Linked DNA regions of Homo sapiens: region 2 is linked to region 1. The links come from fine-mapping of genetic effects on gene expression. Tissue or cell type: testis. Region 1 holds a variant in brackets; the other region holds the start of a gene. All regions are shown on one strand. Distances are between the middles of the regions.

Evidence for each region. PIP is the estimated chance that this variant, and not a neighbour inherited with it, causes the effect.
Region 2: PAK6 starts here. The variant in region 1 is fine-mapped to the expression of PAK6 in testis (GTEx, PIP above 0.99).

Annotation. Positions count from the first base shown.
Region 1 is chr15:40,216,560-40,219,059 of GRCh38, reverse strand. BUB1B (BUB1 mitotic checkpoint serine/threonine kinase B) reads right to left here. Exons shown (of 23, transcript NM_001211.6): 21 at 1,393-1,564; 22 at 498-604. It overlaps BUB1B-PAK6 (BUB1B-PAK6 readthrough), which reads right to left and starts at 1,632. Exons shown (of 10, transcript NM_001128629.3): 1 at 1,393-1,632. All of the region lies in intron 1 of LOC107984763 (a long non-coding RNA gene), which reads left to right. The variant A/G (reference allele first, on the strand shown) is at 1,205.
Region 2 is chr15:40,237,496-40,240,108 of GRCh38, reverse strand. PAK6 (p21 (RAC1) activated kinase 6) reads right to left here and starts at 1,046. Exons shown (of 11, transcript NM_001395430.1): 1 at 307-1,046. All of the region lies in intron 1 of BUB1B-PAK6 (BUB1B-PAK6 readthrough), which reads right to left. LOC107984763 (a long non-coding RNA gene) reads left to right here and starts at 408. Exons shown (of 3, transcript XR_001751506.2): 1 at 408-624.

The DNA.
Region 1 (2,500 bases):
CACGCCTGTAATCCCAGCTACTCAGGAGGCTGAAGCAGGAGAATCACTTGAACCTGGGAGGCAGAGGTTGCAGTGAGCCGAGATCATGCCACTGCACTCCAGCCTGGGCAACAGAGCGAGACTCCGTCTCAAAAAATAAATAAATAAAGAAAAAGGAATTTAAGGCTAACACCAATTAGTTAGAAAATTATTCTCATGAAATGCTTCTTTTCACATATCTAAACAGGGAAGCTTCCATACTATAGCTGTAGTCTGGAAGATACAGCTAGATTCAGAATGATGTCCTGAAGTCTGAATAGTTTTGAATCTTATTTTTAGTAAGCAGTTCCTTTTTCCTGCACTAGCTGCTCTGCTGATACTCTAATGAAAACTGGCTGAAACTACTGGAACCATGGCATTTGGATTAAAAAACTAAGGCTGCCAAAGCAGAGATAGCACCCAAGAGAAACAGAAAATTATTGGGACAGGCAGAGACCCTGACATTCATCAATACTTACTCAGAAATATTTTGGCTAAGTTTCCAGAAGGACCCATCCCAGAAGACCTGTAGGTGTTCCTTGAACAATAGTAAATGTGCTAAATCTGCTATACCAAACAGGTCTACCTGAAATCACAAAAAGCACCATCAGCTAAAATAATTCTCTGCCTCTACCATGGCAGCTTATTTCGGTAGGAAGTTGAAAGGTATTACAGTGCTTAACTAAGTTTATTTTATGACATACATTTTAGTAGACTGTTCCTCACCCTTACAGTAAAGGGAGAAGCTCTCCAAAGAAGTGATCAATAGAGCCAATTCTAGGAATTATCCTTAAGAACAAAAGATGAAATATTTGGACTATCACATTCAAATTTGTAGACCTACTGAGTTTGCATGAACTCCAGCTGTGATCTAAATGGGGTCCACATGATTAGTTCAGGTTTGTGCTACATATTCAATCAGCAAATGTCTTATGTCTAAAGCTGAGTTAGAAGGAATTTCTGCATATAATGCCACCATACAAAAGACTTTACATTTGTGCTAATGTTCTTTTTATATACATTACTTCATTTACTCCTCATAACAATTCTGATAAACACATAGCAGAGACTGTTATCCCTATTTTACAGAGAAGATCACAGAAAATGACTTATAAAAGATTACATGGGTGGTAGGCAGTAGGAGTGGCCCTGGCACTCGGTTACAGAGTTAGTCATGTGTTTGCAC[A/G]TGTATGTGTATATTCTTCAATGCTGTAACACAAAAATGTTACATTTTACTTGACTTGGTGATATTTGAAAACTAGGTCATCTATTCTAGGAGTCGGTATCAGTAAACAGTAGCTTTTATAGCTTATCTAGATAATAAAGAGATTAAGAAACCCTCTCCATATTTGCTCAGGCTTGTTTTACACTTACCTGGTAGGGAGAAGAACAGTTAGCCAGGATCTTTTGTCCTTCCAGGATCTGTACAGTCCGAAAGCCGCTGAGGGTAAAAACATCCAGCTGCACCCTAAGGTCAACACTGTAGGAAAAGTCCACTATCTTCAAAGCTTGATTGTTCTTGTTACAATCATAGGGATCGTGGATTCTGAGCCCAGATTTAAGAGAAGGAGATAATAAAAATAGGCCATGAAAGAAGCTGCATAGCTGGTCTTTAAAAAAAAAAGGTACCTTGGGTACATCTTAGCTATGCCAACAACTCCCTCCAGTGGTTAATTTTGAAAATGCACCTGTAAGACAGAGCAGTGGCAGTGTCCACCCAATGCGGAAGGAATGTCACCACTTTGGTGACACAAAGTATATTTCAATCACGGTGCATGGCCACCATTAAACATTTATCAAGCTTCCATATTATATAAAGTAAGTATGGAAGCAGAGCACAGGCTTCTTCCCTGTACTGTACACATTAACACATACAATTGCAATGATTTATACACTGACAGGAATTATGATGGAGGAAATTAAAATTTTATAGGTGTCATAGCCTTTCTTGTTTACTATTCCAGATAGGCTTTCCAAGTATTGTTTAGATTCTTCCTTCCAGAGTTTAATGGAAAACAATGCAAGTCTGTTTTATAAAGTCCTATCTGTATTGTAAAATTTCTTGTAAAACACCATATTTTATCTTACTCTTACTTGTAATTCCAGTTATTTACTAAAAAAATCTTTATAATACTAATTAATTATCAATTAATTTTGTTTTCCTTGGGTTTATCTATCCTATGCAATAATGCTATTCTCCAAGGGGACATAGGAACTGTTTATAAATGAAAAGAGTGGGTTTTCATGTGTTCCTTTTGTCTGTTTTTCTCAATTAATTCCCTCAAACTCCTGATATTGGTGCAATATTCCTAAATACAGTCTTTAACTACTCCAATTACATACCTCCACGGCACAGAATGATCTATGTATTTTACTTTAAAATTGATAATTGCTCTCATTTTTCCTTGGCACAAGAGCCAACCTTTTTTGGCCACCATAAAACTATACTATAATTAAAAAAAAAAAAAAATATATATATATA
Region 2 (2,613 bases), 21 kb before region 1:
GACGGCTTCCTACCTGGGCATCTTGCTGTGTCTCTGTCCTGTGCACCCAGACAGGGCCTGGGCCTGCCGGGGCTGGCAGCTGCTCCTCACCCTGCTCAGGCCGTGTGTCTGGCGTCCCCTCTCCCTGACGCCCATCTCAGGGCCTGCGCCCACCCAGCATCAGTTAGGATAAACTCCTGTCAAGCCCCCAGCCAGCTCTCTGCTGGACCCAGCTGCTGTCCCCAGCAGGGGGACGGCACACACACTGGCTTACACACTCTCGCACTCACACACACGTGGGTCCACACCCAACACAGAGCCACCTACCTGCCCAGGCCAGCCTAAGCCAATCCAGCCTCGCTCTCCAAATGCCACTCCGACCCCAGAAGCCACTCCTTTACCGAAACATCCCCGTGGGAGATGAGTTCAGAGCCAGCCCGGGAGGACTCCAGTCAGCTCGGACAAGACTGCCCTTCTGTCCCAACACCTCCAGAGGACACACACAGGCAGCCTGACCACCATATCTGCTATTGCACTCTGCCTGCTGCCACAGCCCCCCGGGCACTTCTGGCCCCCACAGCGTCTTCCATATCTTTAGGGGGTGGCAGCAGACTCACAGCAAGTCCCATCTTCCTGGAGCCCAAGGTAGGGAGGGGAGAGCTAGAAGGGGCGGGACTCAGGTGCAGCTCCAAGTTTCCAGCTCCCAAAATAATCAGATGCAAAGGAGAAGCAAGAACAGCTCGAGGCGGGCGGTGACTCAGTGCTAGTGGGCCGGCTTAGTCACCTGGATGGCTGCTGGCGGCTCCTGGCACATCAGGACGGGAGCAGCGCCCTCCCCCACCTGCCTGGACCGTGGCTGTCTCCAGAGTGTGGCCGCCGAGCCCCGCGCCCAGGGCTGCCTGGCAGGCGAGGCCGCTCCACCCCGCTCCCGCCCATCAGGGCCCAGCGGCCCCGGCTGCGGCGCGCCCCTCCTCCACCGCGCGCCCCGGCTCACTTTGGGATTTCTCCATTAAATCCTCAGGCATCGACCTGCTCGTTTGGGGCGCCGAGCTGCTCCAACGTTGCTTGGCAATTTTGATATCGTCGGGGGTTGCCATGGGGAGGAAGGTGATGTCATTGACACAAAAAACCCACTGAATTTACAAATCAGCTGGGGCTGGAGCTATTTATAAAAACACGTTTTTATCTGCCTTTCTTTGCTGAAGGGGAGGAGGAGGAAGGGCTGCCTGCCGGGCTCAGGGTGAGCCTCCCTGCTGTCCTTCCTACCCTTGCCCTAGAGAAGCCAGACCTCCTTGGCTCACCCCCACCCCCACCCCCCAGAACTTGGAGCTGCGCATTCAGATCTGGCAGGTGCTGGTCTCAGCTGGTTTTGCTTCGAAGGCTGAGAGTGGCACATGGGATGTAAGGCAGGGTGGGTGCTGGCTTCCTGGGCTGGCAGGGACCAGAAACCAGTTACTCAACCGGGTCCCTTTATTTCATTGCCCCTGGTCAGAAACAGAGGCATTTGCTGGTGAGGCAGCTTGAGCTCCTTGATGTGCCCCCCTGCCAGCTCCCCGGAGCGCCAGGTGGAGCCCAGCCTTCCACAGTGCCCTCCCCATCCCTAGCCTCAGTGTCTCCTCCACTGGCTTCTTTTCTTCTCCTAGTGTCCAATCGTGGGCTGCCCAAGCTCCAGGCTTGGTCCCCTGCTCATCTCTCCCCACACTCAGCCACCACTCCATCAAAACACCTTTTTTCTGTGGCTTTGACCATCACCTGGGCAAATGCTTGCCCGAAAACCCATTTTGTGCCTGCCCCACTTCAGGCGCCACCTCTGATGGCCCAGCTCCCACTGCCAGGACCCACTAGCTATTGACAGCCAGAGGGAAGCCTGGGAGTTCTTGCCTCTTCCCGTCCCCCAGTCCCTTATATCCAAGGTGGCACTTGGCTCTACATTTTATTTTTGAAAACTTTCTAACTTTCTTCTGTAGCGAAGCCATGTGGTGTTTGGTTAAAAGTCCAGGCTGTGAGTCTTCAGTCTTCCGCATCTCAGCTCCACTGTTCATCAGTTGAGTGACCTTTGGCATGTTATTGAACCAATTGAACTTCAATTTCCTCATCCATAAAATGGGGATGATTTCACCTGCCTCACAGGGCTGTGGAAATTAAAGGAATAAAGTTTCTGGCACAGAGACTGCTCATCTTGATCCCAATAAACATTAGTTTTTATCCACCCCTCCACTGATGGCAGATTAATCTTCCCAAATCATGACCCTAGGCACCTTCTGTGCAAAGGTCTCAAGCTGCATGCGTAGACATTTTGATTGAACGCAGTGTTAGATGTCATGGCATTAAACATAAGAATTTCAATTTGTGGCCAGGCACAGTGGCTCACGCCTGTAATCCCAGCACTTTGAGAGGCTGAGGCGGGTGGACCATGAGGTCAAGAGATTGAGACCAGCCTGGCCAACATGGTGAAACCTCATTCCACTAAAAATACAAAAATTAGCTGGGCGTGGTGGCACATGCCTGTAATCCCAGCTACTTGGGAGGCTGAGGCAGGAGAATTGCTTGAACCCGGGAGGCGGAGGTTGCAGTGAGCCAAGATTGTGCCACTGCACTTCAGCCTGCGCGACAGAGCGAGACTCTGTCTCAAAA